7 linked regions of the Homo sapiens genome follow. The protein of the gene in region 1 interacts with the protein of each later gene in a pairwise test. Each region holds a gene or a part of one and is shown on either strand. Other genes may lie near its edges. The genes, in order: CCDC57, SPMIP6, PTPN7, SHISA6, PRAM1, CWF19L2 and GPBP1.

The links.
Region 2: the proteins of CCDC57 (region 1) and SPMIP6 interact in binary tests that used the Homo sapiens proteins (3 or more experiments, as listed by UniProt).
Region 3: the proteins of CCDC57 (region 1) and PTPN7 interact in binary tests that used the Homo sapiens proteins (3 or more experiments, as listed by UniProt).
Region 4: the proteins of CCDC57 (region 1) and SHISA6 interact in binary tests that used the Homo sapiens proteins (3 or more experiments, as listed by UniProt).
Region 5: the proteins of CCDC57 (region 1) and PRAM1 interact in binary tests that used the Homo sapiens proteins (3 or more experiments, as listed by UniProt).
Region 6: the proteins of CCDC57 (region 1) and CWF19L2 interact in binary tests that used the Homo sapiens proteins (3 or more experiments, as listed by UniProt).
Region 7: the proteins of CCDC57 (region 1) and GPBP1 interact in binary tests that used the Homo sapiens proteins (3 or more experiments, as listed by UniProt).

Annotation. Positions count from the first base shown.
Region 1 is NC_000017.11:82,171,343-82,174,842, reverse strand, and holds part of CCDC57 (coiled-coil domain-containing protein 57), read left to right. Parts: intron 1-1,982; coding exon 1,983-2,205; intron 2,206-2,989; coding exon 2,990-3,142; intron 3,143-3,500. UniProt on the Homo sapiens protein: Pleiotropic regulator of centriole duplication, mitosis, and ciliogenesis. Critical interface between centrosome and microtubule-mediated cellular processes. Centriole duplication protein required for recruitment of CEP63, CEP152, and PLK4 to the centrosome.
Region 2 is NC_000009.12:34,395,011-34,399,018, reverse strand, and holds the start of SPMIP6 (sperm microtubule inner protein 6), read left to right. Parts: upstream 1-1,208; 5' UTR 1,209-1,385; coding exon 1,386-1,520; intron 1,521-2,684; exon of another isoform or gene 2,685-4,008. UniProt on the Homo sapiens protein: May participate in intramanchette transport and midpiece formation of the sperm tail. May play a potential role in somatic cell proliferation.
Region 3 is NC_000001.11:202,146,516-202,150,602, reverse strand, and holds the end of PTPN7 (tyrosine-protein phosphatase non-receptor type 7), read left to right. Parts: intron 1-178; coding exon 179-292; intron 293-1,230; coding exon of another isoform or gene 1,231-1,368; intron 1,369-1,903; coding exon 1,904-1,997; 3' UTR 1,998-3,587; downstream 3,588-4,087. UniProt on the Homo sapiens protein: Protein phosphatase that acts preferentially on tyrosine-phosphorylated MAPK1. Plays a role in the regulation of T and B-lymphocyte development and signal transduction.
Region 4 is NC_000017.11:11,247,713-11,251,212, forward strand, and holds part of SHISA6 (protein shisa-6 isoform 1 precursor), read left to right. Parts: intron 1-3,500. UniProt on the Homo sapiens protein: Involved in maintenance of high-frequency synaptic transmission at hippocampal CA3-CA1 synapses.
Region 5 is NC_000019.10:8,492,641-8,496,140, reverse strand, and holds part of PRAM1 (PML-RARA-regulated adapter molecule 1), read left to right. Parts: intron 1-3,500. UniProt on the Homo sapiens protein: May be involved in myeloid differentiation. May be involved in integrin signaling in neutrophils. Binds to PtdIns(4)P.
Region 6 is NC_000011.10:107,440,826-107,444,325, reverse strand, and holds part of CWF19L2 (CWF19-like protein 2), read left to right. Parts: intron 1-1,276; coding exon 1,277-1,387; intron 1,388-2,703; coding exon 2,704-2,823; intron 2,824-3,500.
Region 7 is NC_000005.10:57,226,059-57,229,558, forward strand, and holds part of GPBP1 (vasculin), read left to right. Parts: intron 1-3,500. UniProt on the Homo sapiens protein: Functions as a GC-rich promoter-specific transactivating transcription factor.

The sequences.
Region 1 (3,500 bases):
GGAACTCAAAGGCAATAATTCTACAGAAGTAAAAACATGCAAGAATCAAAAGAAGCAAATGGTTACAGAGCGATAAACAATTTAAAAGACAAATGGTTACAAAAAGCAACGGTACCAGGTGCAGGGCTCTAAATCCTTCATTATAGTTAGACATAGATGCTATGCCGGACACGAACTCAAGGCTTTATGTTGTTATCTCTTTGAGAAGAATCCTGGGAACTTCAGACGTTGTTGGTGCCAGTACCTTATCAGTTAATTGGGCTCCTTTGAAATGCTGAGGATCTGCTTACACAGGTCAACTCCTTGCGGAAGGGGGTTGGGTAAGGAGCCCTTAGTGTCTTGTAAATTAAGGGGTCAGTTGGAGTTTGTCCGGCTTTCCCAGCTAGAGAGAGTCTTATTTACATGAGAAACAAGGCTAGGTGATTAAAGAGACAAACAGGGCAAAATTTAAAGTAGCGAGTTAGAGTAAAAACAGGGTTAGGCATCGCACTGTCTCCGTTTCTAAACTGCCAGTTGAGGTGCAGGTTCTGTTCGCATCCTCTCCACCCCTGAGCGCAGCGTGTGAAGCTCTCCTCCTGGGAGCCCAGGCCAGCTGGCCTTGCCAGGGAGCACGGAGGAGCCAGCGGGCAGTCAGAGCGTCCTGGGAAGGGCCCAGATCTTGCTTCAGGTTTGTGTTCATGGAGTGCAGAGTAGGGAGCAGGCTCTGCGTCCCTCAGGGTGGCTCCACAGGAGAGGAAGCTGTGCCTTTTGCACACATCTTGGCTGGACTCAAGGTTGAGTTGGGCCAGACCCTGGGACTTTGTTTCCCTCTCCCGTATCTGGGGTCTATGCTGGCGTCTGGAAGCAGGTGTTTCCTCTAATGTGTCTGGTGTTCTAGTTGTTCACAGCCGCAGGGAAAGACTCATGGCAGTGAGTCCCTCCTGGTCAGAGGCAGAAGCGCCCCTCACCTTTGGTTAGAGAAGGACACTCCCTCTCCCTAGGAACTGGGTGGGCGGGGCCTGTCTCTCCTCCTGCACCGGAGCCACCTCACCTCGTTGTCCTCCCGCCTTGGTGGCTCCTTGCGGGGTCTGTCATCCCTATGCCTGCCCTTTGACCCTAGGGTAACATGTCTCTTTTCTCGGGTTGCTTTTAGAGTTTCCATTTTGTTGCTGATTTTTCAGCAGCTTGATTATGTGCTGTTTGGTATGATTTTCTTTCTGTTTATCCTGCTTAGGGTTCACTGAGCTTCGTCATCTGTGATGTCGGCTTTCAGCTCATTTGCTTCGTCATCTGTGATGTGTGGCTTTCAGCACATTTGTAACATGTCTGGCCTTGTTGTAGACGCGTCTCCTGTCTTTGCGTTCATCTGGGCTCCTGGTTCCTTGTGCACCTTGTTCATGGTCTCCAGAGCTCTGCTCATTTTTTCTTCTTTGGCACCTTTCCTTCTGAGCTTCAGTTTGGGTATTTTCTGTTGCCAGGTGTTTATATTCACTGCCTTTTCTTCTGCGCGCTCTGAACCTGCTCTTCATCCTATTTAGTGGATGTTTGATTGTACTAAAGTATACATAACGCAAAACTGGCTGCTTTAACTATTTTTTGGTGCACACAGTTCAGCAGCATGAAGCGCATTCACACGGAGGTGCAGCCATCACACCACCCTCTCCAGAACATTCTCATCTTTCCATACTGAAGCTCTGTCCCCAAGAAACACTGGCTCCCCCTCCCCGCCCACAGCCCCAGCACCCCCATTCCACTTTCTGCCTCTGTGGATTGGACACTCTAGGGATCTCAAAAGTATGAAAGGCTCCAGGAATTTGAGTGTCATATTTGCACTTCTGTCAGAAAGGAGGGGCATCACAGCCTGGGGATGGGGAGGGACCACAGCCCAAGCTGAAGCGGGGGACCGGCCCGAGAGGGGCGCGGGGAGAGCGGAGGCACAGCCTGTCAGGACAAGCTGGGGAACCATTCATCTTTTTGTAGCCATTTTTCCTTGTATTTGACAGATGCTTCTCAGGCAGCATGAAGAAGAAATAAGTAAAGACTTTCCATCCAGTGAGATCCAGCGGCTCCGAGAGCAGAACACGAGCTTGCGAAACGCGATTGCCCAGATGAGGAAAGAAATGGAGGCTCTAAGCCATCAGATTCCTCCTCCCATCCAGACAGCGGCAGAGAGCACAGATGCAAACCAGCCTGACCCAGAGGCTGGGGGAGATGCCGCCACTCCTGGTGAGTAAGTGGGAGAAACGGACAGAGCGGGAGAGGAAGGGGGAGAGGGAGGGAGGAGGACAGACGGGAGCATGGGTCTTGACTGGCTTCAAGGAGGCTTCATTTCAGAGTCCTATAAGTTAACATCCCCTGTAATAAACTCAAAGTATGAAAACTGCTTTTTCTCCAAGAGAAGGGATCTTAAGTTTTATACCAAAAAGCTTTTATATTTGTAAAGTGGAAGGAAAAAATGAGGGTACCTGCTTGACACACTTAAAAACCTGTTTTAGACCTGGACCAGGGCTGGCTTGCTGTCGCGCTGTCCCAGAATGGGTTGGTAGCAGGGGCTGGTGGACCTCAGTCCTTTCCTCCAGAGGAGCGTCTGTGGCAGAGCTGATGAGGGCCTCCCGACCCCCAGGGACCCCATGAGTGGCTGTGGGTGGGCAGATGCCGGGATGGAGGCAGAGCTTCCGTTCTCGAGATGGGACTTGGCCCCTCTGCACAGAGGCACGTGGGCTGGCGGCAGGTGGAGCATTTGCTCCTGATCACTGAGCCCTTCCTGGAGAGCATGGAGACTGTGCTGGTCTCTGGCTGGCACACTCTGGCCAGTGAGGGGAGGGAAGGTCTTTCAGTCTGACACACACAGAGAGTGTGGAAACTACGGTGAAGCTGTAGTGTGAGGAGGACAGGGACAGTGAAGCTGGCGGGCATGAGCTGGCATCGGCTCCCTGAGCTGGTGCTCACAGGAGGGAGGTGCGAAAGGATGCTGTGTATGTGTTATATTCACTGGAGGTTTTTTTGGCAGATTATGTTCTGGCCCTTGAAGCAGAAATACGAACTCTAAAGCATAAGTTTAAAACTCTGGAAAAGCATCTAGAAGATGTGTTGGATCCTTTAAAGATGTCCTCACCTCATGCTGAGTCTCAGCCCAGCGTCCGCACCTCGACAGAGACGACTGGTAAGTCCGCGTCTCAGTGGGGTACTTGCTGTCCCCTTATAAACTGAAATCTGACCCCTGCAAAAGTCCGCTCATAGCAAATATACAGCTCAAGGCTACTGCAGACGTTGGGGCGGCGTCATCCAGCCCAGCAGCCCCTTGTGCTCCCTCCAGAGCCCACGTGCCCTGGCTCCTCACTGCAGTCAGCGTTCCCTGTTTTGGTGTGAATGGAATTCCTTGTGCTCCCTCCGGAGCCCACGTGCCCTGGCTCCTCACTGCAGTCAGCGTTCCCTGTTTTGGTGTGAATGGAATTCCTTGTGCTCCCTCCAGAGCCCACGTGCCCTGGCTCCTCACTGCAGTCAGCCCTCCCTGTTTTGGT
Region 2 (4,008 bases), on another chromosome or scaffold:
CATACCCAGGAACTGCCAGCTCCAAAATATTGGGGTACAGCTCACCACCCCCCACTCCGCCAACCCATTCCTACCTCCTCTAGTGCAGGGACCCAAGTTAGATGATGAGAAAATGCCAAACAAAGGGAGGCAAGGACAGAGAAGGTACCTGCAGGACCCACAAGGCCCATACTGGCCCCCATCTGAACCCACCTCTCCCACCCAGATCAACATCCCCCCAACCCCTGTGCCCCCATCATCTGGACCCCAGAGCCAGCCCTCCCACTACCACCACCACCACCCCGGGGCTCCTTGGCTCACCTTTCTAGAACATGGGTACCTCCTCTTTTTGGGGGCTCATTTAGACTGCTGCCTTTGCTGCTGACTTGCAGTGTGACTCGGGCCCATTGTTCAATCTCTGTGGCCCTGAGACACCAGGGAAAATCTCCCCCCCCACAGGACATACTAGTTCCCTGGCAGGCAAGGGCTTCCAACTGAGGCAGTGCATGTGTGGCAGAGAGAGGCAGGAAGCTGGCAGTGGCAGCTTCTGTGTCTAGGGAGGGGTGTGGCTCCCTCCTTCCCTGTCTGGGAGGTTGGAGGGAAGAATCTAGGCCTTAGCTTGCCCTCCTGCCACCCTTCCCCTTGTAGATACTGCCTTAACACTCCCTCCTCTCTCAGCTGTGGCTGCCACCCAGCCAGGTTTCTCCGTGCTCACTAATTTATTTCCAGGAAGGTGTGTGGAAGACATGAGCCGTGTATAATATTTTTTTTAACATTTTCATTGCAGTATTGACCATCATCCTTGGTTGTGTATCGTGTAACACAAATAATGATATTAAAAGCATCAAACAAGCCAGCCTCAGCTCCCTCCCTGGGGTGTGGGCAAGGGGCAGATGGGCTGGGAAGCAGACAGAACTGGTCCTCTGGGCACACATGTTACTCCACCTCCACCTGTGGGTTCCCAGGCATGCCACTGACCTGCTGCATGACCCTGGGTGAGTCACAACCCCTCCGAACCTCTGTTTCTCTTCAACAGTGAGAAACCTGACCTAGAAGATCTCCAGAGGCCCTCTGAACTCTTAGAAATTGGGCTCTTTTGATAGGCTTGAGGCAGGAGGGGGTCAGGAGCAGGGAGGGAATTAGACCTCCTCACCTTCCCAGGGATGGGGCTGAGCCAGGTGATATCACAATGGGCAGTGCCCATCCTGGAGGGGGCATCAGTGTGGGGTGGGAGCAGGAAGGCTGTTGGGGAAGGAAGCTGAGAGATCCTCTGCAGGAGGGGATTATAGCAGCTAAGGGCACCTGCCAGGCTGGAGGTGTGGCCTGTCTAGGGGAAGGGTGGTCACTGATGTCCAGCAGGAGCCCTTGACAGGTAGAGCCCACCACGGCATCTCCAAGACCACACCATGTTCCTGTTCTCCCGTAAGACCAGGACCCCTATCAGTACCTACAGTGACTCCTACAGGGCTCCCACCTCCATCAAGGAGGTCTATAAGGACCCACCCCTGTGTGCCTGGGAAGCCAACAAGTTTCTGACTCCGGTAAGTGGGAGATTGGTGGGGAGGGGCAGGCCAGAGTGTATGGCCAGTCTGGATGCCTGGCAATGTATGTTTGTAATGATTTGTAGCTTTGTGTATGTGTGTGTTTTATTCATTTACCTAGGCACAGAATTTACAATGGTATGTAAAACAGCACAAAATCCTGCCTTCATGGAATTACATTAGGGTAGGAGGTAGGAACAGGCAGATAATAAGAAATAAACATGAGTTTTATAAATTCTTCAAAAATACTGTAAAGGAAATAAACAGAGTAGTGGAAGTGGAAATGGAAAGGGAGGGCTACTTAGGTCATGGAAAACCCTCTCTCAAGGTGACAATAAACTGAGACTGGAAAGATGAGATAGAACTAGCCACATGAAGACCTGAAAGAATAGAAGAGCTGAAAGTTCCAGACAAGTGATCACAAAGTGCAAAGGCCCTGAGGCTGCCTGTGGAATAGGCCGGAAACTGTCCTATATGCATGCCTTTATCTATATGTATCACAGTTTACTTGTGTCTGTGCTTGAAGATTGGTGGCCAGGTGGGAGGAAATCTGTGAGTCTAACTGTGACTCTGCCTAAGAGAATTTATCTGTGTGTACCATCCAACTTTGCTGAGTATCTTCATCTGTAGGCAACCCAGGATACAAAAGGGAAGGGCCAGCCCTTGCCTTTGAGGAGCTCACAGCAAACAAGTGAACAAAGTAGAGTTGCCCGATGTGGAACATGCACCAGCAGAGGTGGAGAGCCAGAAAGGGGAGAGCGCTGCCCAACCTGAAGGGCAGACCTACTGAGGGATCCAGGAGGAGGAGGCTTCCAGCAGAAGACAGTCAGGAGAAAAGGCAGCCTGTGGGCAGGGACCTACCAGAAACTGAAACTGTTAGAGCAGGAGAGTTTAGTCCTTGGGTGAGAGAGGAGTCTGCAGACCAAGAAGGGCCTCTCTGGCTATGTTGTGGAGCGTGGACATAAGGCTCCAGGTTTTTGAACCTGGGAGGGAGAGTCATGGTTCAATTGTGAGTTAGGCCACTCTGGCCACAGTGTCAGGGAATTGCAGGGGCTGGGGTTGAGGGCAGGAAGGCCAGCGAGGGGTGAACAGATGAGGAAGGAGGATGTAGGTGGGAGATAAGGAGATTGTCACAATGAAAAAAGGAATTCGTTGAATAGGAGAGAATTTTTAAAATAATTTATTTTGTCTAACTCCAAAATAAATATACGCTGAATGTAGAAAATGCAGATAACTCAGAGAAGCACAAAGAAAAAAGGTCTAAAATCCTACTACCTAAAATTACCATTGTTAATATATTATCGTATGCCCTTTCAGGAAGCAAATATTGTTTATTATAAAAATAAATAAAATTTATTACAAAATGGTGTATTTAAGGAATCTTATTGAAAATTTAGGTACTTTATAAAATTTTGCTAGTATAATCATTCTTATACATGTATCTTTGTACACATTTCCAATTATTCCCTTAGGATAAATTACTAGACATGAAATTGTTAGGAGAAAAGATATACACATTTTTAAAACTTTTGCTATATACCTCAAATTGCCATAATAAGTAAGGGTTGTAACAATTTACATTTCCACAAGCAAAATATGAGAGTGCCTGACTCCATACTCAATAGAAGGGAATTTTAAAAAGTAGATGAACAGATTTTGGTCACCATATGGATGGTAAGGTGAGAGATTAGGGTGACCCTTGAGTTTTTGGCTGTGGCAGCTGGAGGAATGCTAATGCTATCAACTGAGGTTTGGAATAACAGATTAGAGATTTGGAGTTCATTTGAGAACAAAAATATTTGAGGATATCCAGGAAAAGATGTTTGGCAAGTAGTTAGATATACTTATCTGAAGCAAAGGAAAGAGGTCTGGGTTATAGATAGAGATCTTGAAGTCATCATCATATAAATGGTGGGTGAAGTCATAGGAAGAGATGAAATTGCCAAAGAAGAGAGAGAAAATGGCCAAGGACATAACTTTGGAGAATATAAATATTTAAGGGTAGGTAAAGGAAAAAAAGCCATAAAAGAAGACAGAGAATTATTGCCAGAGAACTAGGAGGAAAATCAAAGATAAACCAATAAAGACAGCATTATTAGACAAAGATCAGTGTCAAGTGTTAGTGACAGAGAAATCTCTCGGATGTAGTAACTCTTGGTAACTTAGCCAGACAGCTTCAATGAATGGCGAGGAGTGAAAGTCAGATAGCAGTGGTATTAAGAATGAAGGAAAAGCCAGGCATGGTGTCTCAGGCCAGTAATCCAAGCACTTTGGGAGGTTGAAGCAGACAGGAAGATTGCTTGAGCCTACGAGTTCAAGACCAGCCTGGGCATCATGGTGAAATCCTGTCTCTACCAAAAATACAAAGATTAGCCAGGTGCAGTGGCATGTGCCCATAGTCCCAGCTACTCGGGAGGCTGAGATAGAATCACTTGAGCCCAGGAGGTTGAGGCTGCAGTGAGCCTTGATCACACCACTTTACTCCAGC
Region 3 (4,087 bases), on another chromosome or scaffold:
CCAGCAGGGCCCCCAAGGGGACTGGAAAGCAGAGTACTGCTACCTGCCTCCATCTCCAGAGCCCTATCCCCAAAATATAGCACCTGCAGGTCCCATTTCTTTCTCCATAGTTTGGGGCCTGGCTCTCATATTCCCTGGTCTCCCATGACCTCCCTGTCCCCTCCCTGGCTATCTCCAGTGCAGGGATTGGCCGGACGGGCTGCTTCATCGCCACGCGAATTGGCTGTCAACAGCTGAAAGCCCGAGGAGAAGTGGACATTCTGGGTATTGTGTGCCAACTGCGGCTAGACAGGTGGGTCTGTGGGTGTAAACAAGGCCAACAACGTTAACGGATGGCATCAGTGCCTCTGGGCCCCAGAGTTCTGCTAGGCCCATCACCATCAAGCACTCCTGCAAGAAAGGAAGAAACCCTTTCTGCTTAGAGCTGTTTATTTTACAACTAACAACCAGGAAAAAATATCTATCTGGATGGCCGGGTGCGGTGGCTCACACCTGTAATCCCAGCACTTTGGGAGGCTGAGGCGGGTGGATCACCTGAGCCCAGGAGTTCGAGACCAGCCTGGCCAACATGGTGTAAACCCTGTCTCTACTAAAAATACAAAAATTAGCCAGGCCTGGTGCGGGCCCCTGTGATCCCAGCTACTCAGGAGGCTGAGGCAGGACAATTGCTTGAACCCAGGAGGTGGAGATTGCAGTGAGCCGAGATTGTGCCATCGCACTGCAGCCTGGGTGACAGAGCAAGACTCTGACTCAAAAAAAAAAAAAAAAAAAAACAAAAAAAAGAATATCTGTCTGGAATGTTGGCTTGGATGCCTGGAATTAAACATGATATGAGGCAGCAACAAGTAGTGCAAAGAAGATCACTGGGTGGAGGCAGAGCCGGTGTTCAGATTCTGACATCTGTCTCACTGAGATGTCACTAGATTTCTCTGAGCCCCCATTTCTTTTTTTTTCTTTCTTCTTTTTTTAATAATAGAGATGGGGGTCTCACTATGTTGCCCAGACTAGTCTCGAACTCCTGGGCTCAACAATGCCCACTTGGCTTTGCAAAGTGCTGGGATTACAGGCTTAAGCCACTGTGCCCAGCCCCCACTTCTTCTTTATCTAGACAGAGATAATGGCTCCTTCCCCCAGAAAACTGTTGTAAGAAATGAGTTAACTTATATGAAAATGTTTTGGAAATGGAAACTACTATACAAATGTATGGAATCATTATTTTTACTTTTTAAGATTATTAGAAAGAAGGAAACTTGAGGCTCAGGAGTATTCCTGGCCCGACCCAAGGCTTCAGAGATCTGGTTTTGTCCCAGGAGCTGAGTGGATCAAGGAAGACCAAGTGTCAACATGGGGCATCACCCCTCAGCACGTGTAAGGGGCAGAGGACTTCTCTCACAGCAGATCTGAGGGGCAGCAATGAGGAGTAGAAAGTAGAAAAGATGAATATAGGTGGTGGGGCATGGTGGCTCATGTCTGCAATCCAAGCAGTTTGGGAGGCCAAGATGGGCCAATCACTTGAGGTCAGGAGTTCAAGACCACCCTGGCAACATGGTGAAACCCTGTTTCTACTAAAAATACAAAAATTAGCTGGGCAAGGTGGCAGGCACTTGTAGTCCTAGCTACTCAGGAGATTGAGGCAGGAGAATCACTTGAACCTGGGAGGCAGAGGTTGCAGTGAGCTGAGATCATACCACTGCTCTCCAGCCTGGCTATCAGAGTGAGACTCTGTCTCACAAAAAAAAAAAAAAAAAAAAAAAAGTGAAAAGATGAATATAGGCAAAGGAGTTGGCATGTTCTTTGAGAAAGTCAGGACTTTCCCAGTAGGACCACAGGGATGTTTGACTGGAGCCATTCAGCCAGCACCCTGACCCTCCTTCACTCATGGTCTGTGTGTTTCTCCTTGCAGAGGGGGGATGATCCAGACGGCAGAGCAGTACCAGTTCCTGCACCACACTTTGGCCCTGTATGCAGGCCAGCTGCCTGAGGAACCCAGCCCCTGACCCCTGCCACCCTCCGGTGGCCCAGGTGCCTACCTCCCTCAAGCCTGGGAAGGTGGGTCTGGGGAAAGTGGGCCGAGTGATCTGGGGGTACCCCTTGGGTTGGTGTGGGGAAGGAGTGCCTCCTTAGTGGTGCTTGCAGTCACAGGAAGCAGCAGCAGTAAGGACAAGGGGCCGGATTCCAGGTCTTCAACACTGGCCACTCCTCTGCTTCCTCTGTTGGCCCCAGATGGACAGTAAGGGGAACCTCCAATGTCTCTCTGAACTTAAAGACAGGAGCTGGCATTTATGACAGACAAAGAAAGAAGCCCAGGTGTCCTGGTGTTCTCTGAGACACTCTTTGTGAGCTTCAGTTTCCTGTTCTATAACATGAACATAAGTGCTTAGCTGCCATGAGGGAAAAGTAATGAGAGAAGTTTCTAGAAGCCACTCCAGCCACTCCTTCCTGGGGCTGACAAAAGGGTGATTCCAAGATCATCCTTCACCCGAGGTCCTGCCCAAGCACAGGCCAGATGCAAGAATGGGGAAAAGTCTGGTCCTGATCTCCAAGTCTCAACATCCTATCAGTGACTCTGCTCCCTGACCACACATCGGAAGGGCTGGATGACCCCAATCAAAAGAAAGAACAAGGACTCTGGTTACCCTTGCCTCCACCCATGTGTCATAAGAGTAGGCTACAGAGGTGACCAGGCCTGGCAGTTGAAATCTCTGGAAGAGGGAACATGTGGGGACTACTCAGAGGCAAAGAGGAGCTGCTCCTGCCTCCATGGTTGCTGGCCACTCCCACCAACTACTCTTAGGGAGGCTAAGCAGTCTCTGTTTTGCTTCCATGGCTCAAATAATACCCTGGGTATGCAGGACCCACTATACCTTGCATTTGCTGAGTACACCTAGAGAGCTTGGCTGTTTCCAAAAACAATCAGGGTCATAACCATCCATGCAGACATGGAGGCTCGGCTGAACCAGGACTCCTCACTGTCTACCTGAGAGAATGAGCACCCCTCATCCATCTCAGCATCAACACAATTTCCAGGGGACCTCAGGTCTACCTCAGGACTGAACGCCACACCTCAGGATTCCTCCTCCTTGAATCTGAGACTGGCTGCCCATTCTGAGATGGGGATGAAGGTAAGATGCCGCATCACCAGGCACGCCGCCCCTGACAGCTGCCTTGATACCAGCTCTCTGTGGAAACCCCCGAGGAGTTGGATCTGGAGAACAGCTGGGCCTCCTCACTCAGGACTTCTCTCCTGAAGAACACGCAGTGCTAAAACTGAGGATGATTTCCCTAATGCTTCTGCTTGGCCTTATGGAGGAGCTGCTCCTTCCTTACAGCCTTGGGGATGGACTTGCCCACACCTCCACCTCCCCTGAGCCCTGTGAGAGGCACGACTGTCTATGCCAATGAGGCTCGGTGGGGGGCTCTCAAGTGCCTGATCCTGCCCTGGGCTCAGAGCCAGCCCAGAGGGAAGCAACTGCACAGCCCCACAGGCCCTCCCTGGCACTGTCCCCCCAACCCCATCTCAGAGCTCAGAGGGTACAAGCTCCAGAACAGTAACCAAGTGGGAAAATAAAGACTTCTTGGATGACTGACTCATTCCTTCTTTCCATCTTCTTCTTGGCCCTCTGGGGCCTCTTTGTAGCAAGAGAGAAAGACTGCAGACCAGGGACAGGCAGGCTGCAAATCTTTGCCCTTGGGATATGCACTTTTCTAGCACTTCCAAGGACATAAAGTAAGGTGAAACCAAAGTCAATTTAGGAAGTGAGACAGGGTGGACCCTCATAGCCTACCCAGGCAGCTGTAACAATTCACACTACCGTAAACCATGTGGCTTCTAAACAACAGAAATGTATTGCTGGCCTGGCGTGGTGGCTCATGCCTGTAATCCCAGCACTTTGGGAGGCCGAGGCAGGCGGATCACGAGGTCAGGAGATCCAGCTAACACAGTGAAACGCTGTCTCTACTAAAAATACAAAAAATTAGCCGGACGTGGTAGCACACACCTGTAGTCAGCTATTCGGGAGGCTGAGGCAGAAGAATTGTTTGAACCCTGGAGGTGGAGGGTGCAGTGAGCTATCATGCCACTGCACTC
Region 4 (3,500 bases), about 71 Mb from region 1:
GAAACTCCACCCCATTATTTCTTCCTGAGTTACGTTTATGACCTCACCTCTTTGGCGTCTTTCTTTTTTTTTTTTTTTTTGAGATGGAGTCTTGCTTGGTGGCCCAAGCTGGAGTGCAGTGGCACAATGTCTGCTCACTGCAACTTCCGCCTCCCTGGTTTGAGCTATTCTCCTGCCTCAGCCTCCCAAGTAGCTAGGACTACAGGCGCCCGCCACCACACCTGGCTAATTTTTTGTATTTTTAGTAGAGACAGCGTTTCACCATGTTAGCCAGAATGGTCTCGATCTCCTGACCTCATGCTCTGCCCACCTCTGCCTCCCAAAGTGCTGGGATTACAGGTGTGAGACACGGAGCCTGGCCTCTAGTGTCTTTCTTTGCAGATATTGTAGAGAGATAAGAGGCCTGGGTACAAGGGTTACCAGTGAATCCTCAGAGGGTCTCAGTCCCTTGAACTCAACCCTTGAGCAAGCTTAATTTTAAAACAATTCAGGATACATTGCTAACTCTATTTTTTTTAATCTCTCGAAGTGAAACCAGAACTTCTGAAAAAGCAGGGTAGTACATTCTATTCTTTTGTCATCTATTACAGAATTATAACGTTTTCATTGCAGGCAATTCATTTAATCTCGTTACCTAGTTTTACAAGTGAGGCAACTGAAATTCAGAGAGGCTAGGTCACAGTGCCAAGGAGCCCAGCTAGTGGGTGGGTGAGCTTGGAGGTTAAGCCAGGGCGCCTGTGTTCTAGCGCTCAGACTCATCTCATTCAATGAAAATATATTCTGCTTCTTTACTCTTTGCACGTTCCTTGGTTAGTCATCACCAAATAACTTTGGGATCCTTAGAGATGTGAGTTACAGCCTTCTCCTTTCTCTTTCTTTCCTACGTTTCTGTACCCCTCCTGGTTCACTGTTTCCACTGAATGTCTCCACTAAAATGATTTCTGTCGATCTTCCCCGCTCCTTTTGCAGTTTTTTCACGTTCCTTTCTTAAGGGCAATAACCTAATCTAAGCATAATCCTTTTATAAGGTCTGAGTAATGCGGACTATTGAAGAAGGAAAATAACAGCACAACCAAAGAGTTGTGGACTGGGGCAAAAAGTCACCGAATGAAACTGTGGGCAGAAATCTGTCATTAAAAATTCAGGGCCAGGCACAGTGGCTCACGCCTGTAATCCCAGCACTTTGGGAGGCCGAGGCGGGCAGATCACGAGGTCAGGAGATCGAGACCATCCCGGCTAACACGGTGAAACCTCGTCTCTACTAAAAATACAAAAAATTAGCCGGGCTTGGTGGCGGCGCCTGTAGTCCCAGCTACTTGGGAGACTGAGGCAGGAGAATGGCGTGAACCTGGGAGGTGGAGCTTGCAGTGAGCCGAGATCGCGCCACTGCACTCCAGCCTGGGCAACAGAGCGAGACTCCGTCTCAAAAAAAAAAAAAAAAAAAAAATTCAGACTGTGAATGCTTTCTCTCTCTCTCCCAGAGATGAGTGGAAATGCTGAATGCTGAGACCTACCGGATCAATGCAGTTCAGCTCTGTGAGAGGCCAGAGACCTCCCGCCATCCAGTGGCCGTGTGTGTGTGTGTGCGCGTGCGTGTGTGTGGACGTGTGTGTGCGTGTGTATATGTGTGTGTGATTTCAGGGTTATCTTCTGGGTTGGCCCCCTGCATAGAATATAGCTCTGCAAGCCACGGAAGCTCATTCATAGACGCCAGTTTTGCCCTTTCTCAGCTCTGGGCCCAGATACTGCAGGCTAATCAAGCTGGAAATCTGGGCTTAATCATTATGTGAAAATAACCTCTGTGGCATGCAGTTTGGGGGTTTTCCCTGTAATGTGCTTGATACTTCCTTTGAAAGAACCTGGTTGTACATACCTTAATGTGTCACCCTTCCAAGCAGTCACCTTGGGAGGCCGCATGCTGATTTTTCTGCAGAAAATGTTTCCACGGTCCCTCTCTTGAAAGTACATTGAGAGCCCATGGCATGTCATTTTGACTTTATATAAGGGTAACATATTTTAATTTTCCTAGGGTTGATTTGATTCTTGTAAGCAATGGTAAGTCATGGGGCTGAGTCTGATGAATGAGATAGGTGATCAGAAATCAAGAGTGCCTCCAGTAATGAGACTTGCTCTCCTAGGAGCCGTGTCAGCTGTCTCTGAAGGCAGGAGCCCAGAAGAGGCATTTCAGAAAGGAGTGAATGGCAGCTCTGCACAGGAGTGCCTGGCAATCCACGATGATCATTTTGAAGAGGACACTCCTCATGAGGAACGACAATTATTGGCCTTAAGAAAATCAGTTTTATGCTTTATCCGTGTGTCAGGCAGGTGGTGGAGGTCCTAAGAGAGAGGGAGAAAAAGGAGTTGAGTCTGCAGCAAGCATTTCACATGGAACTGCTCAGAAAGGGTGAAAAAGTGCACGTCCCATATTTCTGCATGAGATAGTAGACAGTTAGCTTAATTTAGCTTCCTAGTTTGATACTGAGGGTAAAAGGACCCAGTTTTACGGGATGTATGCAGTGAGGCTCGGGGTCAGAGCCAGAGTGTTCACTGTGCCTTCCCTTCTTTCTATCCCAGGGCTGTCGCCTCTGTACTTCTGCATTCAGACGGGGTCACCAGCTGGGCCAGACTGCCTTAGATGATGTAGAAATATTTGCAAGCCCAGGAAGATAAGGCTGCCAGTGAGCACTGCTGATCAATTCCTAATGTGCATTTATCACCACTCGCTCCACCCCCAAATGTCCATTCAGTGGATGAATTGATCACCGAAATGGAGCGAGGGTGGGGCAGGCTGAGTGTAAAGGCAGGTGACAAGGGTTACCAGACTCAGTGTCTGCAGGCAGGGAAGCCATGGCTGTGCTACCTGGGTAGAATGGCATTCCTTCATCTCAGTCAGGATTTAGGGGTTGGTAAAGGGCTGGGCATTTGTACTGCCCCCATGCATAGGCCGGGGCAGAGCCTCTGGTCCTGATGACCCTCTAAAGGCCATTGTTGGGCATTCTGGAGGAGTCAGTCTTGCTGTGAGCCTGGGGAGTCCCTCTTAACTCTGCTCACGTGTCAGGACAGTGGGAGCTCTGTGTCCCAGGAGCTTACACAACCCCATCACTCATGCAAGCCCACAAGCCAGAGTTGGAGAGAACTGGAGATCTCGGTGAGATGAAGACTCAAGGAAGTGGAGAGGATGGTAGAGAGATACTCATAAGAGTGCCGGGTCTCGAGGGCTTACTCTGTACCAGCATCCAGCTTGCACCTAACCTGCATTATCTCGCTGCATCCTCCCATCATCCCGTCTGAGTGTAGGGGCCCATGTTGTAGATGAGGAAACCGATTCAGAGAGGCTTAGTAACTTGCCCAAGGTCACACAGCTAGTACATTGCTGGTGCCCTTCTCTCTCTCAAGTCCAGTAGAACAGTTGGGTCTCACCTTCCTGAATGTAATGGAGTCAGTGATACTCAGATTACTTAAGAAAGCAAAGACCTACCTTCCCATGCCCTGGGACTGGT
Region 5 (3,500 bases), on another chromosome or scaffold:
CCCAGCCTGATTTACTTAGACCTGTTGTGTTCAAGGTAGCTGAGGGGATGTCCAGGCAGAACTTGGGCCTGAAACTCAGGGGGAGGTGTGGCCTGCAGGCAGGTGTGGCAGTGGCAGGGGAGGGAGGCTGCCAAAGGTTTCTTAGAAGTTTGTGCTGGGTGAATAGGGAGCAGGCCCGCACCTCCTGCCCAGCTCCACAGTTAATGCCTTCATGAAAACACAAGCAGCTTCCAGGCAAGCACCTTGCCTGCCTGTCCCTAAATCTGTACCCTCCACTCCCTGCATGTCCCTAAATCTGTCCTTAAATCCGTACCCTCCACTCCAAAGTTAATGCCTTCATGAAAACACAAGCAGCTTCCAGGGAAGCACCTTGCCTGCCTGTCCCTAAATCTGTACGCTCCACTCCCTGCATGTCCCTAAATCTGTCCTTAAATCCGTCCTTAAATCCGTACCCTCCACTCCAAAGTTAATGCCTTCATGAAAACACAAGCAGCTTCCAGGCAAGCACCTTGCCTGCCTGTCCCTAAATCCGTACCCTCCACTCCCAAATCCCCACAGGGCAGTAAGGCAATGCACCCCCATTTTACAGATGCACAAGGCTGGCCCGGCGTGGCAGCTCACACCTGTCATCCCAGCAGTTTGGGAGGTCCGGTGGGCGGATCACTTGAGGTCAGGAGTTCCAGACCAGCCTGGCCCGCATGGCAAAAACCCATCTCTACTAAAAATAAAAAAACTAGCTGGGGCCGGGCGTGGTGGCTCACGCCTGTAATCCCAGCACTTTGGGAGGCCGAGGCGGGTGGATCACCTGAGGTCAGGAGTTCGAGACCAGCCTGAACAACATGGAGAAACCCCATCTCTACTAAAAATACAAAAATTCGCCAGGTGTGGTGGTGCGTGCCTGTAGTCCCAGCTACTAGAGAAGCTGAGGCAGGAGAATCGCGTGAACCTGGGAAGGAAGGGTTGCAGTGAGCCAAGATCACGCCATTGGACTCCAGCTTGGGCGACAGAGTGAGACTCAATCTCAAAAAAAAAAATGAGTCGGGCATGGTGGCATGCACCTGTCATCCCAGCTATTCGGAAGGCTGAGGTGGGAGAATTCCTTGAACCCGGGAGGTGGAGGTTGCAGTGAGCTGACATCGCGCCGCTGCACTCCAGCCTGGGTGACAGAGTGAGACTCTGTGTCTGTCTCAGTTGAAAAAAAAAAAAAAGGCCAGGCGCAGTGGCTCACGCCTGTAATCCCAGCACTTTGGGAGGCCAAGGCGGGTGGATTGCCTGATGTCAAGAGTTCAAGACCAGCCTGGCCAACATAGTGAAAACCTGTCTCTACTAAAAATACAAAAAATTAGCTGGGTGTGGTAGCAGGCGCCTGTAATCCCAGCTACTTGGGAGGCTGAGGCAGGAGAATCGCTTGAACCTGGGAGGCAGGGGTTGCAGTAAGCTGAGATCCTGCCATTGCACTCCAGCCTGGGTGACAGAGTGAGACTCCATCTCAAAAAAAAAAAAAGAAAAAAAAATAGGTACGCAAGGTTGAGGCTCTGGGATGGGGCTTGCCCTGGCTTGCACAGCTGGTCCACGAGCTGGATCTGTGGCAGGGCTTTCAGCGGGGGCCAGAGCTTGAGCTTCTAAGGTGCTCCTGCTCTCGCTGACAGCCTCAGAGGGCCTGGGGCAGAGAGGCCCCCTCTGCTTCTCCTGGGCTTTCTCCCTGAGCTTCTTGCAACACCTCCCTGTGAGCACACAGCTTCCTGGTGGGGCCCCTTCTGCTTCCGCTCTAGGGGAGGCTCTGTGGCTTGGGTCTGGGGGCCACCGTTGGGGATGCGGATGGCCAGGAGTGGGGCTGCTGAGCGCCTGGGCTAGTGACAGCCTGCCTCCAACCACTCCCAGAAGCCCTGCTGGAATCCCCCACCTCTTCCGAGGCTAGGAGCATCTGCCTCTCCTCAAACTTCATACAGTCCCCACCCTTGGCCCATTGTTCCTGTCACCAAATAACCTTCTCCCCCTTCCTTGCCAGTCATTTGAGGTTCTGATAGGAAAAAAGAAAAAAGGGGCCGGGCGCGGTGGCTCATGCCTAAAATCCCAGTTCTTTGGGAGGTGGAGGCAGGCGGATCAGTTGAGGTTGGGAGTTCGAGACCAGCCTGGCCAACATGGTGAAACCCCGTCTCTACTAAAAATACAAAAATTAGTTGGACATGGTGTTGCACACCTGTAGTCCCAGCTTCTGGGGAGGCTGAGGTGGGAGGATCGCTTGAATCCAGGAGATGGAGGCTGCAATGAGCCGAGATTGCACCTCTGCACTCCAGCCTGGGCAACAGAACGAGACCCTGTCTCAAGAAAAAAAGAAAAAAAAAAAGGTCCCACTTCCCTGGATCTCCCGCTTCTCAGGAGTGGCGTGGGCTTCTCACTGTGGGTGCAGCTTCTCAAAGGCAGCTTAGGTCTCTTGGGGCCAGGACTCTGGACTCCCCTTTCCCACTGTCTGCCTTACTTGGAGCAGTGGCAGCTCCACTGCAGAGGTTCCTGGAAGGCAGGGGGCTCCTCTGCAGGTGGGGAGAGCCCAGCCTTTCCCAGGGATCTGAGCTGGCCATGCGGGGAAGGCGGGCAGAGGCCTGCTCTGGGTCAGCTGTGGATGAACCAGGGCTGCCTGCATGGCGGTGCCAAGAGGTGCTCTAATGTGGCGGGTTTGCAGGGACCCTGGAGTGCCAAGGTCAGGTTCGCTCCTGGTGGAGTGACTGCTCACGGCCAGGGAAGCCTCTGAGAGGCAGGAGCAGCTGGAGGGGCTGTGTGTTCCAGGTGAGACTGTGGATGGCCATGCCTGGTATCTGGCGGGCACGATTCAGGTGCTGCTCCTTGGGCTGCTTGGAGGGACTACAGGCCTGAAATGTCCGGCGGGATACTTTGAGCCATTCGGAAAGGACATGCTGGGGCTCTGGGTTCTGGATCTTTCACTCACCAGGGTTCCTGGGGCTCCCACCTGAAGCCAATTCCTTGGCCAGCAGGGCTCTGACTTGGGAGCCTGGTCATTTGCCAGGAAGTGGCACAGGGAGACTGGCACCATGGGAGACCCCTCAGTCCAGAGTCTCATCATCAGTCACCAGTCCAGGACGCTTACCCTAGCAGCATCTTTTAAAAATTATTTTTATTTACTATTTTGAGACAGGGTCCTGGTCTGTCGCCCAGGCTGGAGTGCAGCGGCGCCATCTTGACTCACTGCAACCTCCAGCTCCCAGGTTCCGGCGATTCTCCTGCCTCAGCCTCCTGAGTAGCTGGCATTATGGGCGCCCACCACCACACCCGTCTAATTTTTGTATTTTTAGTAGAGACAGGGTTTCACCATGTTGGCCAGGCTGCTGTCAAACTCCTGACCTCAAGTGATCTGCCCGACTTGGCCTCCCAAAGTGCTGGGATGACAGGCATGAGCCACCATGCCTGGCCATGATATTTTACTGTCAACTATCATTGCCCTCCTGTGCAATGGAACACCCAATTTCTTCTTCCTAACTGTAACT
Region 6 (3,500 bases), on another chromosome or scaffold:
TGGAAGCCACTGGTGAGTTTGGAGAAGTTTCAGTAGATTAATGGGGACAGTAGATGTATTGTAGAGTTTTGAGAAAATGTATGAAAGTGAGAGTGTGAAGGCGGTGCATGTAGACTACTCTTTCAAGAAGTTCATCTGAGAATGGAAGCCGGAAGATTAATTCCTGCTAGAGGAGGAATATACGGGGTCAAGGAAGGTCCCCCTTCCCTCCTTAAAAAAAAAAAAAAAAGGGTGGGAAATGCTTGAAATTGTTTCTAGGCCATTAGGGATCTTTGGTTAATGCCGTGAGAGGAGAAGATAATTGATGGAGCAAGGTCCTGGAGGAACAGAAAGAGTTATCAAAATCTTTAGAGCAAGATCTGCCTTAAATAGGAGGAGTTAACTGGAAATAAGGATAGGCACAGCCATAAATGTTTTGGGCGGTGGGTAGGAGGATAAGGTGGCCCTAGTTTTCTTGATGAGGTAAAAGAAGACATCATTTGCTGAGAATATGGGAATTGGTATAAAGCTTCAGGAGGGTGTTGAAGAAGATAATGTTATCTGCAGTTTTAGATCAAGGGAAATCTCAAAATGTGAAACTTAGGGGCAAACAGCAAATTCGTTTACCTGGGTGGTGTTTCCCCTGTTCTAGTGAAGCAGAGATGTGAGTAACTACTTGACGTTGGTAGTCACTGAAGCTCTGTGCTGAAGTGAGGTCTCTACTTGGCAGTTCCCATTTTTGTTTTTTTGCCTTCTCTTGGCTTGATAATAAATGGATGAGAAAATAAAAATAATTTGGTTGTGTTTGGTGGGCTTAACTCAAACTAGTGGGTTTATATGTTTTTTCTTTAAAAAAATTTTTTTTTTTGAGACGGAGTCTCTGTGGCCCAGGTTGGAGTGCAGTGGTGTGATCTTAGCTCACTGCAACCTCTGCCTCCTGGGTACAAGCGATTCTCCTGCCTTAGCCTCCTGAGCAGCTGGGATTACAGGCATGCGCCACCACGCTTGGCTAACTTTTTTGTATTTTTAGTAGAGATGGTGTTTCACCATGTTTGCCAGGCTGGTCTTGTACTCCTGACCTCAAGTAATATGCCTGCCTCAGCCTCCCAAAGTGCTGAGATTACAGGTGTGAGCCACCACACCCAGCTCTTTAAAATTTCATTGCCATTTTGTAAAGGGGAAATACAGTGTAAGAATTTTTTTCTACGATGTTGAATTTCTACCACTTAACAGCACAGAATTTTTATATCAAAGTATGCAAATTTGACAATTTCACTTATATGCTAAATGTTCTTAGAGCTCTGAAGATGAGTGGGTTGAGGCTGTTCCATCCCAGACTCCTGACAAGGAAAAAGCCTGGAAAGTGAAAGATGAAAAGTCAGGAAAAGATGACACCCAAATTATCAAGGTAAGCAAGCCACTTGATTTTCCTTCCTTGCTTTCTTCCTTCCTTCCTTCCTTCCTCCCTCCCTCCCTCCTTCCCTCTCTATCCCTCCCTCCCTCTCTGTCCCTCTCTCCCTCCCTCCCCCTCCCTCCCTCCCTCCCTCCCTCCCTTCCTTCCTTCCTTCCTTCCTTCCTTCCTTCCTTCCTTCCTTCCTTCCTTCCTTCCTTTCTTTCTTTCTCTTTCTCTCTCTCTCTCTCTTTCTCTCTTTCATTCATTTTAGAGACAGGGTCTCACTCTGTTGCCCAGGCTGGGCCGCAGTGGCACAATCAGAGCTCTCTGCACCCTCGACCTCCCAAGCTCGAGTAATCCTCCCACCTCGACCTCCCTGGTAGCTGGGACCACAGTTGTGTGCCCACCACGCCTGGCTAATTTTTTTATTTTGTGTAGAGTTGGGGTCTCCCTATGTTGCCTAGACTGGGTCTCAAACTCCTGAGCTTGAGCAATCCTTCCACCTCAGCCTCCCAAAGTGCTAGAATTAGAGACGTGAGCCACTGCACCTGGCCTATCACTTGGTTTTAAAGAAAAAAGTATCAACTTTTGAGAATAAATGAATATGAAAATGAAAGATGATTAAAATTTCTTCAGGAGAACAATTAGACTTTGAAAACAATATACTTTAGGAATAATTTTGGCAGTACTGCTGTTTGCTGAATGTTTAGAACCCCCTTCCCCTTCTACTGTGAGAAAGTGAGTGTTCCTCTCTATTCTCGTTCCTTAGAGGCTTTCATGCTTTTGATTGTTGATAAGAAGTGGCACTTTCCCCTTATGTCCCTAAAGCCTTATACTGTATCTCTGTCTGACCCTTCTATAGTGAGTGGAGTTCCATCACAGTTTTTTTTCCCTTCACCTCATGCCTTAATTTTCTTAACAATACTTAACAGTTGAATAGTTCAAAAATTTTGGGCTATAGTTCATCTGCCTCAGGAAGAATGTAATTTGTCCACTGTTAGCCACAGGTGAAGGAAGAAAGGTGAACAGGAACTAAGTTTGATTGCTTGTTGTGTGCCAGGCTTTGGGCTGGATGCTTTAGATCTGTTATCTTGTTTACTCTTTAAAACAATCCTGAAAGGTAGGGATTTTATACCATTTTATAGAGGAGAGACTAAAGTATAGAGAGATTTAGAAGCTTGCTTCAAGTTATATAGCCATGTAGGACTTGTTTCAGGTTTGATTGCCTCCAAAGTCCCTGCTCTTATTACCAAGTGTTTATTAAATTCTAATCAGTTCAGATTGAAATGATGAGTGGATGACTGTTGATTTTATGTCTTTTTTTTTAACAGAGGGATGAGTGGATGACTGTTGATTTTATGTCTGTTAAAACTGTGTCATCATCATCACTCAAAGCTGAAAAGGAAACTATGAGGAAAATAGAGCAAGAGAAAAACCAAGCGCTTGAACAGGTAAGAGAATATTTGAAATGCTTTAACTTTCTAATTTACCTTTAATAAACTTACAAGACATTTATATAAATGCAGTTTAACTTGTAAAATACCATTTTATTTTTTATAGTATTTAATACAATTAGTGAGAACAACTATGAAATACATCAGTTTAAGAAAAATAAATTTCCTATAGGAAGTGAGTTTAAAGGTTTACTAGATTTATAAATCTAGGGCATATATAAAGTTGAGTGAATATTGAGTTTAATATCATTAAATTGAAAGTGAACTCACTCAATTTTTGTTTCAGTGTACATACTGAATTAGACACCATGAAAATACTTCCATTTCAAGACATCTAGAAATTCTGGTGGATATAATGTAAAATAAGCATGCTTATTTTATACTTTATTGTTGTCACTTTGCTAGTAAGGAAGCAATAGGAAATCTGTAGAGACCAAAAAATGAGGCAAAAGCATGAATCCAGAGAAGTAAGGAAGTGCTGAAGCTGATGACTTTCCTAGGGGCATCACACAATCCTGGTAATCTGGAATTCCAATTTATACTGTACCAGGAGCATATGTTTCTTTTCCAGTACTCAGTATCTGTAATTGTCAAACTTTATATATTTTTTTATCAGCCTAATAAATGGGTGAGAAATGGTATTTCATTGTTTTTGTTCGCATTTATCTGATTGC
Region 7 (3,500 bases), on another chromosome or scaffold:
AACAGATCTTGGAGTGACCTGTGTCCCTTGGGGTGGTTGGTTTTTATGTGAGAGAATGAGATACAGGACATCTCTCTATTGACAATGAGGGGTAACTTTTGGCCCATTTGTTGCCCTTGTAATTGTTAATGAAAGACACCAACAGTCAGGTCGGTTTAAATTCCTGTTAATGAACTGTAATGGATAATCATGGCCTTAGACCATATCCTGGCAAAATTACTTATTGGTGGTTCCCAACCTCCACCAGCGTTCCTCCTTCCAGGGTTTATTCAGTTGGCTGGGTCCTGACCTCACTTGAGATGTTGATAATAGACTTAATTAAATGCTGTATAAGACCAGTTAAATGAATTTTGTTCTAGTCTCTGTCAGGAAGATTAATATGAGTTACTAACAGTGGAATAATAATGGGAAAATTCAAATTCAGCCAAGAATGTATAGGGCTGATGGGTAGATCATTGAGAGAGGCAATTCATCCTGGGCTCTGAGCATTTTTGCTTTTTTTTTTTTTTTTTTTTTTTTGAGATTGAGTCTTGCTCTGTCACTCAGGCTGGAGTGCAGTGGCGCGATCTCAGCTCACTGCAGCCTCCGCCTGCTGGGTTCAGGCAGTTCTCATACTTCAAGTCACTGGGATTACAGGTGTGCGCCACCAAGCCTGGCTAATTTTTGTATTCTTTTTTTTTTTTTTTTTTTTTTTTTTTTGAGACAGAATTTCGCTCTATTGCCCAGGCTAGAGTGCAGTGGTGCGATCTCTGCTCACTGCAAGCTCCGCCTCCTGAGTTCATGCCATTCTCCTGCCTCAGTCTCCCAAGTAGCTGGGACTGCAGGTGCCCGCCACCGCGCCTGACTAATTTTTTGTATTTTTAGTAGAGACGGGGTTTCACCATGTTAGCCAGGATGATCTCGATCTCCTGACCTCGTGATCCTCCTGCCTTGGCCTCCCAAAGTGCTAGGATTACAGGCGTGAGCCACCGTGCCCGGCCTGTATTCTTTTGAAATTATTTTTTAACTTTTGGAGGTGGAGTCTCGCTCTGTTGCTCAGGCTGGAGTGCAGTGGTGCAATCTTGGCTGACCGCAACCTCCACCTCCCAGGTTCAAGCAGTTCTCCTACCTCAGCCTCCTGAATAGCTGGGATTACAGGCACCCACCACCATACCCAGCTAATTTTTGTACTTTTAGTGAATTTAGTGTATTTAGTGAGCCGTTTCACCATTTTGGCCAGGCTCGTCTCAAACTCCTGACCTCAGGTGATCTGCCCACCTCACCCTCCCAGAGTACTGGGATTACAGGCATGAGCCACCACACCTGGCCTAATTTTTGTAGAGATGGAGTTTCACTGTATTGACCAGGCTAGTCTCAAGCTCCTGACCTCAAGTGATCCACCTGCCTCAGCCTCCCAAATTGCCGGGATTATGGCCATGAGACACTGCACCCAGTCCCCTACACGTTCTTGCTTGTATGCCAAGAATGCAAAATCTTGACTACACTTTGCATGGGCCGTTTCTTGGTTGTTTGCAGTAAGCAACATTGAGGGACAAAGACCAAGCTCTTTATATATGTGGTTGATTTGCCAAACTCAGTGCAAGGGCAGCATCCACCTGGGCCCCTCCCTGTCAATCCCCAAAGGTCTTAGGGGGCTGTACAGAACCAGTGCCAACATCACGCTTATGCTGCTTGCTGTACCATGAGTAATAAAGTCTTTGTCTCATGTCTTTTGCCAGCATCCATGAAACAGTATCCAGGCTAGCTTGTTAGCTTGCACAGATGGTAACATCCCAGACTCTTGAAAGACTCTGACATATAGCCAGCATAGTAAAATATGAGTAAGAAATAACAGGTAACAGGACTAAAGGGCAAGATAGAAAACTGGTATTATTTATGAACAGTAACTGTCCGTATAAAAAAATCCCAACAGACATGCTACAAAGTATGAATTAAGGTTACTAGAAATAAAGTTGCTAGATAAAAGACTAATACAAGATAGAATTGTAAGTGCAACAAAGACTTAAGGCTTTAAAAAATATTTAAAATAGTAACAAGTACCCTGTTTAATTACTTCTTTATATGTTTAAATACTTCATTAAAACCACCTATATAGTCTTTTTAGAATATCAAAGCTAGCTGGGCGTGGTGGCTTACACGTGTAATCTCAGCACTTTGAGAGCCCAAGGCGGGCAGATCACAAGGTCAGGAGTTCGAGACCAGCCTGGCCAATATGGTGAAACCCCATCTCTACTGAAAGTACAAAAATTAGCCAGGTGTGGTGGTGGCCACCTGTAGTCCCAGCTACTTGGGAGGCTGAGGCAGGAGAATCATTTGAACCTGGGAGACGGAGGTTGCAGTGAGCTGAGATTGCACCATTGCACTCCAGCCTGGGTGACAGAGCGAGACTCTGTCTCAAAAAAAAAAAAAGTCTGCATCTATATCTGTATCTCAAAGCTGGGTGCAGTGGTGCATGCCTGTAGTCCCGGCTGCTCAGGAGGCTGAGGCAGGAGCATCACTTGAGGCCAGGAGTTCAAGTCTGGCTTGGGCATATAGATCTGTCTCTAAGGGGGAAAAAGATCCCCTCCATTCTTTATTTTACTCAGATTTCAGCGGGGGAAATTTTTTTAAGGAAATTAAAAAAAATAAGCTGTAGAAAAATATTTGCAGTATAAATGGCATCTGCTCAGTTCTGGGGCATAATACAAAAAAATTTTTAAAATGCTATAAGGTGCTAGGATAAATCTATTGAAATACATGCAAGACTGAAAAAAAAAAACTAACCATAAAGACTTAAAAGATGACAAATATAAGTATAGATATACATGTGCATTTCCCTCCCTACTGAGAGAAGTAAGCAAGCATATATGTATGTGTATGTTTTCTAACCCAGTAATGAATAATTGTCTGGGCTGAGTGCAGTGGCTCACTCCTATAATCCCAGCACTTTGGGAGGCCAAGGCAGGTGGATCACTTGAAGTCAGGAGTTGAAGACCAGCCTGGCCAATAATGATCAAACCCCGTTTCTACTAAAAATATAAAAATTAACCGGTTGTGGTGGTGGGTGCCTGTAATCCCAGCTGCTCACGAGGCTGAGGCAGGAGAATCGCTGGAACCCAGGAGGTGAAGGTTGCAGTGAGCCAAGATCGTGCCACTGCACCCCAGCCTGGGCGACAGAACAAGACTCCATCTCAAAAAAAAAAAAAAAAAAAAAAAAAAAAAAAAAAAAAGGAGTTGTCTGTCTTCTCAACCCTTACTGTCATTATATATTGGCCAATGGGCAAGAGGTGCCAGCTTTGTTCTAATCTTGCATTTTGATTACAAGAGAACCTGGCTATGTTTTCATGTGATTTGTGGCTCTTTAATTTTTGAGAACTGGCTTTTTGCTCATGTTTTCCCCATTAGGTTGTCCTTATTTGTATTGATTTATAGAGCTCTATTTTCCTTTCCTTTCCTTTTCCTTTTTCCTTTTTCTTTCTCTTTCCCTTTCCCTTTCCTTTTCTTTTTTTGATGGAGTCTTA